3 linked regions of the Homo sapiens genome follow. The protein of the gene in region 1 purifies or fractionates together with the protein of each later gene. This does not show direct contact. Each region holds a gene or a part of one and is shown in the gene's direction. Other genes may lie near its edges.

What was found.
Region 2: the proteins of DNAI1 (region 1) and ZNF318 purify together in Homo sapiens (affinity purification with mass spectrometry; one large-scale study listed by BioGRID and IntAct). This does not show direct contact.
Region 3: the proteins of DNAI1 (region 1) and ESPN purify together in Homo sapiens (affinity purification with mass spectrometry; one large-scale study listed by BioGRID and IntAct). This does not show direct contact.

The regions. Positions count from the first base shown.
Region 1 is NC_000009.12:34,517,671-34,521,501, forward strand, and holds the end of DNAI1 (dynein axonemal intermediate chain 1), read left to right. Parts: intron 1-2,987; coding exon 2,988-3,086; 3' UTR 3,087-3,314; downstream 3,315-3,831. Other genes in the region: ENHO (adropin precursor), read right to left, coding at 3,795-3,831.
Region 2 is NC_000006.12:43,335,540-43,338,768, reverse strand, and holds the end of ZNF318 (zinc finger protein 318), read left to right. Parts: coding exon 1-1,611; 3' UTR 1,612-2,699; downstream 2,700-3,229.
Region 3 is NC_000001.11:6,455,733-6,458,717, forward strand, and holds part of ESPN (espin), read left to right. Parts: coding exon of another isoform or gene 1-465; exon of another isoform or gene 466-939; intron 940-1,451; coding exon 1,452-1,531; intron 1,532-1,628; coding exon 1,629-1,640; intron 1,641-2,985. UniProt on the Homo sapiens protein: Multifunctional actin-bundling protein. Plays a major role in regulating the organization, dimension, dynamics and signaling capacities of the actin filament-rich microvilli in the mechanosensory and chemosensory cells.

The DNA.
Region 1 (3,831 bases):
GTGGGGCCCCAGGTGACTTTCCCAGGTGGAGACATCCAATGAGCAGGTGGATCTGAAGCCTGCAGAGGCAAATGTGGAGGTATCATTGATTTCTTCCCAGTGGAAATGCTGTGGGTAGGACAGGTCACCCAGGCAGGGGGCCTGGGGCTGAGCCACTGCCTCATTGACTGGGCTTTCACAGGGCTTCAGCCCCAGTGGTCCCTGAGCTGGGAGCTGTGGGTCTACACAGAGAGGAAGGAAATGAGCCGCAAGGAGAGTAACTAGGTCAGCAGCTATGCAGCCCTCCTTCTGAGCTCTGGTTCCTGTTTCTAGGGTCTCCAATGATCAGGAGACCCTGCCCAGAGGCCAAGGGCCCCAAATACAGGTCTGGAGCCCAGAGCGATGACCTTAAAGTCTAGATCTGAGTCCAGATCCAGACTTATGAACCCAGGCTTTGCAGCCCGGGCCTTGGAATCCTGAGCCCAAGAACCCAGAGCCCAGTCCTGCCCATTTGTGTGCTAAGAGTAGAGATGGCTCTTTGCTTTCTGCCAGGTTCTGGGCCAGGATCAGGACTGGGCCAGCTTGCCCTAATGACCATCCCTCCTGGCAATTTGAGGCATTTACTGCAGTTTGAGGCAGTGGCAGGGGCCTGTGTCTTTCGACTACTGTCTTCCCTGCACTGTGCTCCTACCAAGGAAGGGACTGCGGCACCATCCCTCTGGTGCTGGCTTGGCCTGTTCCCCACCATGGCCAGGGAGGCAAGGGCTGGGAGTGTGGCTGGCCCTGTAATTGTAGCCAGCTGGGGGAGAGGGTGGACTTGGCTATAAATACTCAAAAGGCTGCTAAGCGCCTGCAGCTGTGGCCCAGAGGCTGTGGTGGGCTTGAGGGGAGGGAGGGAGTCGGGCGTGGTCTGAATCTCTTTGCTGAGCCCAGCTAGTTGGCCTCAAGGAGGAGGAAGGAGGAAGCATAATTTGTGGAATAGATAAAATGTGTTCTTAATTTTCTGAGGAGAGAGACCCAGGTTGAAGCTGGCAGAGTTGGACAACCCTCCAGGAGGGATGATGGTCATTCTTTGGGGGAGGAGTACAGCCATGACACCATGAGGGTGGTAGACATGGGTGGGAGCCTGCCCTGCCCACTCTGATCCAGGGAGGTAAGCATCTCCCATAGTTTCAGTTCCCCTCAGAGAAGGGTCAGACATGGGTGGGAGCCTGCCCTGCCCACTCTGATCCAGGGAGGTAAGCATCTCCCATAGTTTCAGTTCCCCTCAGAGAAGGGTCAGACATGGGTGGGAGCCTGCCCTGCCCACTCTGATCCAGGGAGGTAAGCATCTCCCATAGTTTCAGTTCCCCTCAGAGAAGGGTCAGTCATGGCTGGGAGAGCTGGGCTGTGTGTATCTGGGGACCTACGTCTCTGAGGACCTGAGAAGGGACAGGTGGGGGCTGGTGGGTACTTGAGTGGATTAGAGGTTCCCGTGAAATTGCCATCTGACCCTATCAGCCAAGTGATTCATGCAAAACAAAATCCTCTGGGCATCCCTACTGCCCTTCCTCTGTGAGCTGCAGACTCCCTGCCCTTTCCAAATGGCTTCCCCACAGAGGTCTGGACCTCCCTGCCCAGGGAGCTCCCATGATGGGTGTCAAGAGCCCAAAGAGTCCAAGGCCAAAGACTGTCTTTCCCTAACTACAGGATAGATGGGAAACTGAAGCTCAGAAAGGCAAAGGCCTTGCCCAAAGTCATATAGGGAGTTAATGACAGAGCTGGAACTAAAACCAGGTCCCCTAACTCCCAGGGGATGGGGTGAAGCCAAGAAGAGAACCCAAGCTTAATTTAGGAAGGAGAGAGGGAAGAGAGAGAAAAAGAGCTTTTTTGTGCTCTGCCTGCAGAGGGTAGAGGTGAGCTAGGTAGTGGCAAAAAGGCACTGGGCTGCAAGCGGATAGGGGAGAAAATTTGGGAGCAGGTATGGGGTCACAGCAGGGGGAAATCTGAGCTCCACATGGTGACAGCAGCCAAAAAGGAGCCAGGGAAGGGCCTACTGGCCCTGCACTCACCCCTCCCCATCCCCTTTACAGCCCTGGCCAGACCAAGGTAAGGCTGGGGTAGGTGTCAGTGAGCAGTGGGCACAGGTGGCTGAGAGGATGGGGGCCCAGGAGCACAGCGAAGGCAGGAAATGGGGAAATGGCAACTGCCCAGCCTGCCCCAGCACAGCCCTCACCCCCCTGCCTGGACAGCAGGGAGGGTGGGACTGGTGCTGGTCTGCCAAGGAGTTCTCAGGACCTGTGGGTGACACACACTCCAGTGTCCAACTTATAATGGAAGGATTGGAGTGCTTTGCAGGTAGGGTGTTGGGTCATAAACTCAGGATCTGGTCTTCTAAAGGACAACCTCAGCCAACGACACCTGGAGTCACATGGACTATTCCCTCTGCCCTTATGGGTCTCTTGACACTCTTCCCAACCCTGGGTATGTCTGACACAGCAGGTCTCGCCCCAAATAGCACCCACTGCCAACCTGACCTGAAGGCATCAGGTGAGAGGACTAGGTGAGGTCCGGGCCCCTGAGGCTCTGTCCACAGCCCCTCCCTCCCCAAACACATACCCATTAGCTCCTTGATAGGTCTCGGCCAGGGACCTTCCCATGGTAAGGATGGTGCCAGCAGTCAGCCCCCCGCCTTCGCAGAGCTGGATTTCCCTGGCCTGGAAGGTTGTTCCCCTGAGGGTCAGGGAATGGATGCCTTTTCCCACTCCCACAAGCATCAAGACCCCATGTCCATCTGAGGTTCAAGCCAGAGCTGGACTCCTTTTTGCAAGCTGTCAGCTGAGCCCCTGTGTCACCTAACCCGAGTTGGGGAATGATCGTGTCAGGGAGAGGGGAGGCAGGGATCCAGAATTTACTGGGCAGGGGAGGGGTAGGGCACAGCTGGACAGGCTGGGCAGAGGAGGTGGTGCTGGGACCCAGAGAGGGGGGGCCCACCATTCCTCCCTCATGTATACTTTCCCTCTCCCCAGGAAAAGAAGGGGCAGGAGGTGCAGAAGGGTCCAGCTGTGGAGATTGCGAAACTGGACAAACTGCTGAACCTGGTGAGGGAAGTGAAAATCAAGACCTGAGGGGCTGGCCTCAGTCTCTGTCCCATCGCTTGAATACAGTACTCCTAGGGCTTGACCCTGGTACCCAGCCCAGCCTTAGCACCCAGCATGTGACCCCACTCCTGATCAGGTCCCAGCATCTTCCCTTCTTGTTCTGTTCCTTAAGGTCCCAGCACCTTACCCCAGGACTTGGTCTTCAACCACCATTACCCCTCTAACTTTGCACAAATAAACCTGTGTAGAAACCCACCCCACACCTTTAATTGTGCTACCACAGGGCCCTCAGGAAGAGAAGAAAACCTCAGGGTAGAGCCATAGTTCCATTTATTATCCAGCAAACACTGGGAGGACCAGGGGAGGGGCCCAGCCTGGACACCCTCCTATTATTGCCATGGGTTCCAGTTTGCTTCCCCAGCCTAGAGGGCCTAGAGGTGCTCAGCCTAGGGAAAGAGTGGACCCGGCCCCTGACCCTTGGCCCTTGGGATGGAGCATAGTCCAGATGGCCCTGGCTCTAGCACCAACTCATAAGCCCCCACCCCAGGCCCATCTCCTTAGGGCCACTGAGCTCCTATTGGAGCCAAGCTGGCTAGACTCTGGGCCGCTGGGTCCAGCTCCAAGCAGGCGGACTCTTGAGTTCTGGACCCCAGGCTGGCTGAACTCTGGGATCCTAATTCCAGGCTCTAGGTGAGGTGGACTTAGGTCCTGGGCTCCAGGCTAGGCCAGGGGCCTTCAGGGCTGCAGCAGGTAGCTGCCTTCATGGCTGGGC
Region 2 (3,229 bases), on another chromosome or scaffold:
CAGAAGTTGGTAGAAATCCACCTCAGAGAATCTGTTAACCAGGATAAGGAAAGCCAAGAGCTCCGTAAATCTGAGGATTGTAGAGAAAGTGAGATAGAGACAAACACTGAACTAAAAGAAAGGGTAAAGGAGCTGTCTGAGGGGATAGTTGATGAGGGAGTAAGTACCAGCATTGGACCCCACAGCATAGATGATTCTAATTTGAACCATGGAAACAGATACATGTGGGAGGGAGAAGTAAAACAGCCCAACTTGCTAATGATTGACAAAGAGGCTGAACAGTCCAATAAATTGATGACAGGAAGTGAAACTCCAAGTAAAGTAGTGATCAAATTGAGTCCACAGGCTTGCTCTTTCACAAAGGCAAAATTAGACTCATTTTTATCAGAAGCTAGGTCTTTACTCAACCCACAAGATACACCTGTGAAAATTTCTGCCCCAGAGTTGCTGCTTCATTCCCCAGCCAGATCAGCTATGTGTTTAACAGGTAGTCCACAAGAGCAAGGAGTTTCAGTTGTTAGTGAGGAGGGGCTAGAGAATTCAGCTCCAGAATCAGCTTCTAGAACTTCTAGGTACAGAAGTCTCAAACTCAAGAGAGAAAGATCAAAAGACTTTCAAGTTAAAAAGATCTATGAGTTGGCTGTTTGGGATGAAAACAAGAAGAGGCCAGAGACCTGGGAGAGCCCAGAGAAACCAAAAACAGAAGCACTGGAGCTACAAGATGTCCATCCAGAGTTAACAGTGACAATAGAAAGCAAGGCCCTAGAAGACTTTGAAGCTACAGACTTAAAGGTAGAGGAGCTTACTGCCCTGGGGAATCTGGGGGATATGCCTGTTGATTTCTGCACTACTCGGGTAAGCCCAGCACATAGATCCCCAACTGTCTTGTGTCAGAAAGTGTGTGAAGAAAATTCTGTATCACCTATAGGGTGTAATTCCTCCGATCCCGCTGACTTCGAACCAATCCCATCTTTTTCTGGGTTTCCGTTAGATTCTCCCAAAACCTTGGTGCTTGACTTTGAGACAGAGGGTGAACGAAACTCACCTAATCCCAGGAGTGTTAGGATCCCTTCTCCTAACATTTTGAAAACTGGACTTACAGAAAATGTTGACCGTGGCTTGGGGGGCCTAGAGGGAACACACCAGGCCCTTGACCTGTTAGCAGGAGGAATGATGCCTGAGGAAGTAAAAGAATCTTCCCAATTAGACAAACAAGAGTCACTCGGATTGGAATTAAAAACAATTAATTCTGCAGGCCTTGGGCCATCTCCTTGCCTTCCAGACCTTGTTGACTTTGTCACACGGACCTCTGGAGTTCAAAAAGATAAACTGTGTTCTCCACTCTCTGAGCCAGGTGACCCTTCTAAATGTAGTTCCCTGGAGTTGGGGCCATTACAGCTAGAAATATCGAATGCATCCACCACAGAGGTGGCAATTCTGCAAGTAGATGATGACAGTGGCGACCCTCTGAATTTGGTTAAAGCTCCAGTGTCAAGGTCCCCTCCAAGGGAGCAGGTAATTGAAGACAATATGGTCCCTCAGGGAATGCCTGAACAGGAAACTACAGTTGGTGCCATCCAGGACCACACAGAATCCAGTGTTCACAACTAAGAATAAATACCTAGAGCTACTTGTGAGTGAATCATTGGCTTCTAGAAATCAGATGCCCAGATGATCCAAGACTAGTTTGTTATCTCATCTGGAACCTACACCAAGAGATGCAGTCAGCATCTTAAAGTAAATGTTCATGGAAGCTAAAAAATTTACCTCCTTTCCTTTTCCCTTTCCCCTTAAAACACCAGACAAATCGATAACAACTTATATATATATATATATATCTGTAAAAATGTATTTTGTTAATTTTTTTGGCCAATTTATTTTCTCCCACTTTGTCATTAAAATCACATGTCTAACTGGCTCACCACATAGTGTGCTTTGATTGTATTTTGGCTTTGACTCTGCCATTTCTGAAATGTGGGGGAGGATGGAGGCAGCTGACCTCTCCAGTTGCTGTGTTGTATTCCTACCCAATTTCCTGGGCAGTTGATGCATCTCTGGGAAAAACACCAGAAAGCTTGCTGAAATGGAAAACTTGGAAGAATTGTTCATCTCTTAGGCTTCCATTTGGATGGGCCTGCCTTAACATTGTTTGAAATGCAGCGTGAGTAGCTCTTTTGTTTACTGTTTACACCCCTTATTGGCATGTCAACTCCTGTACTTCCCTTACTCTGTTGCCTTTCTTGAGATGCATTGTCCTGCTAACCCACAAACCTGTTTGGAAATAAACATGGAAGAATATCTGGCAGGCTTACTTTTAGAAGACGACAAATCGGTAAGGCTTATTCATGGTTCATTGCCAGGAGCAGATATGCTTTTGAGATCACTTTTATTTTTGAAATGGCCTTTGTTCATTGTATTGTGATCCAATAACACTTTGTATTAAATTGTTTAGCAGCCATTTGTGTTGTGAAGGGGTAGAAGATCTCTGAAACTTGTCTTGAGATTGAACTCATTCCCTGTTCCACAAACCCATATGTATCCTTTCCTCTACCTCCTCCTTTCCCAATTAATTTCAACCATAGTACGATGTTTGGGGTTGTATATTTTGTTAAAAAGATTAAAGAATTTATGAGTTGGCTTGGACAAGTTTAACTTTATTTTTAATGTGTTAATTACTTGGAATAAATGCATTAATCTCATGTTTCCTTCTGGATTTTTGTTTTGAAATCACACACATTTGAACTCCAAAGGAAAACTAGAACAGTGAATCCCTGCTGCCCTATTGTCTATCCGCACCCGCAACCATGCTTTCCTCACTTGTCAGAACTACTTCATGCCAGAATGTTAGGATATATAGTCTGCCCCAGCGCAGCCTGGGTGGGTAGTGAGTAGGCAACAGTTGTCTGGTATTGGTATCTTCCTGTTGTGAAGCTTTTTATATACCTTTGTGTTGACTCTCCGTAGGATTTTCTGGGAACTGAGCTCCCCTAGGACAATCAGGTTCTTGCTCTTGGGAATTAGGGAGCTCAGTCCTCAGATTTTCTCTGTCCCAGTTTCCTCTTGTATCCCTGTTGTCAGCAGTTTATAACCTGACTCAACAGGGCCTTCGGAGTCTTATTTACCCACCTGTTCCTCAAAGATAATACAAAATTGCTGATCTGGATTAACCTCCCCGCTCCCCCAATTTTTTTTTTCCTGTTTCCTTATGTACAGAGCTATAAAATCCCTA
Region 3 (2,985 bases), on another chromosome or scaffold:
GACCGACTGGGCAGCCACCCGTGGGAGCGCATCCGCCTCTTCCACCGCGTGGTGCTGGAGGAGGTGGAGGCCGGCCGGCGCGGCTGGAGCGACGGCTTCGAGGACCTCAGGCACCGGTTCTTCGGAAACGGCCTGGAGGCTGAGCCGGCCCCCGAAGAACAGGCGAAGGAAAAGGAAGAGGAGGGGAAAGAACAGGAGCGGACCGAAGAGGCTGCTCCATTTCAGACGGGGGACCCGCCTGAGGGGCAGCCCGAGGCCCTGGCCCCTGCGCCGCAGCCGCCGCCGCCGCCCCCGCCCGCCGCGCCTCCCCCGACCTCAGACTCTCCTGGTTCCGAAGCCCCCGCCGAAGACCCCTTGGAACTGGTGTCTGAGATGGGCGAGTTCAGCAACGAGGACATCTGCCGCTACATCGACCGCAGCTTCTCCTTCTGGAAAGAGAAGGAGGCAGAGCTGTTTGACATCTGAGCAGCGGAATTCGGAATTCTCAGTTCACCCTCGAGCGTCTTAACGTGGGCCTGGACGCCTGTCTGACGCCCTCCAGAGGCTGGAAGCAGCAGGAAGAGCCCAGGACTGTGGCCTTGAGCAGCCCGGAGGGCCCAGGACCAGGCTGCCTCAGCCTCTGAGGTCCCATCGTGGCGGGCTGTGGGGCGTTGGTCGGATAGGCAGGGCAGGCACAGAACAGACCAGGTGTCCGCCTCTGGCCCCGTGGCCTTGCTGAGCTCTGTGTGGAGCCAGGCAGCAGAAGAAGCCCCTCTGAGTGAGGGGCTGCGGCTCCTCCTTGCGGCAGTGTGGCCTGCTCTTTGGTTTTCCACTGGAGTTCACAGCTACCTCCTTGGCTGAGGTCAAGGGTGCCACGTGTGCAGTGTTCTGTGTGAAGTGTGCCGTGTACAGACCCGTTCTCCTCTGTAACATTCAGGAAATAAAACTCTTTGCTGTAAACTGCCTGCGTTGGACACCACACCTGCCCCTGATGTCATTGTAGCCCCACGATTGTAGTGCCCGTATCCACTCTATTGGGAAGATGGCAACCATGGGGTGAAGGTCCTTCACAGGGGAGCCAGGGGCAGCCTGAGTCTCCCTGAGCCAAGAGGCTGGGTGGGGGCTGGCTGGCATCTGCGTCTGCCCAGAGGTCTTGGGCCTGTGGCCATTGGCCACCTGCCTCTGCGGGGAATCAGGCTCAGGACCTCTGGGTCCCAGCTACTTGTTCTCTGCTTCTGTCCCATTCAGCTCTGATCTCTCTGGTGCCTCCTGTAGGACATGAGGGTCTGGGTTACTAGGGGAAAGGAGGCCAGCTCTGAGGGGGTGTGACCAGGCACCTCCATCCACTTGTCACACAGATGTGCATCAAAAGGATGTCTTCCTGTGACCCTGACTCCTTCAGGTCCCGAGGTTGAGGGTGCCCCCTATCTCCCAGCCCCTGCAGGCCCTGAAGCTTTGTGGTTGTGTTTCAGGAGGAGGAGGAGGAGGCCCGGCTGGCCAGCATGCCCGCCTGGAGGCGGGACCTCCTGCGGAAGAAGCTGGAAGAAGAGAGGTGAGCTGGGGGTCAGGCAGAGGCTGGCCTGGCAGGGTGTCTTGACTGCGTCCCTGAGGTGGAGGTACCAAGTGACACTGTCTCTTTTTCCTTCCAGGGAGCAGAAGCGGTGAGTGCAGGGCTGGCCCCAACCTGCCACCCTTATCCCCACCCAAGTCGCAGAGGGTCGTCCCTTCATCCAGGCCAATTTGAGTACATCCTCCTGTCTCTTGGCCCTTGTAGCACAGCCTCCTTCCTCCCTATAATACCCCAGAATCTCTCTCTCATGCTCTAATAACTTTGTTCCCGGTTACTCAGTCCCTGCCTCCTATTAACCTGGCCTTTTCTACCCTTCAGTTAACCTAACCCCACTATCAATCACCTTGATTGTCTGGCCCTCAGAATGTACTTTCTGCCCCTAGTCATCTCACCCAGCCCAGTGCTGGCCAATAGAAATGTAATGAGAGCCACAGATGTAATTTAAAATTTTCTAGTAGCCACAGTGAAAATGTAGAAGGATATAGGTGAGCTTCATTTTAGTACTGTTTTATTTGGCACAAAATATCAAAAATATTATTTCAACACATAATCAATTATGAAAATTATTAATGAGATGTTTTATACTCCTCTTGTAAAAGTAAGTCTTTGGCCAGGCATGGTGGTTTACACATGTAATCCCAGCACTTTGAGAGGCCAAGGCAGGGGGACCACTTGAGCCCAGAAGTCTGAGACCAGCCTGGGCAATGCAGTGAGACCTCATTCTGCGAAAAAAAAAAAAAAAAAAAAATTTTTTTTTGAGATGGGGTTTCACTCTTGTCACCCAATCTGGAGTGCAGTGGCGATCTGGGCTCATGCAACCTCTGCCTCCTGGGTTCAAGTGATTCTCCTGCCTCAGCCTCCCAAGTAGCTGGGATTACAAGCGTGTGCCACCACACCCAGCTAATTTTGTATTTTTAGTAGAGATGGGGTTTCACCATGTTGGCCAAGCTGGTCTCAAACTCCTGACCTGAAGCGATCCACCCGCCTCGGCCTCCCAAAGTGCTGGGATTATAGGCATGAGCCACCAAGTCTGGCTTTTTTCTTTTTTTTTGAGACAGAGTTTTGCTCTTGTTGTCCAGGCTGGAGTACAGTGGCACAATCTTGGCTCACTGCAACCTCTACCTCCTGGGTTCAAGTGATTCTCCTGCCTCAGCCTCCCTGGTAGTTGGGATTACAGGCGCCCGCCACCACGCCCGGCTAATTTTTGTATTTTTAGTAGAGGCCGGGTTTTGCCATGTTGGTCAGGCTGGTCTCGAACTCCTGACCTCAGGTGATCCACCCGCCTCAGCCTCCCAAAGTGCTGGGATCACAGGCGTAAGCCTTCGCACCAGGCCTGCAAAAAAAATTTTTTTTAATTAGCTGCAGGGGGCTGGGCGCAGTGGCTCATACCTGTAATCCCAGCACTTTGGGAGGCTGAAGCGGGTGGATCACCTGAG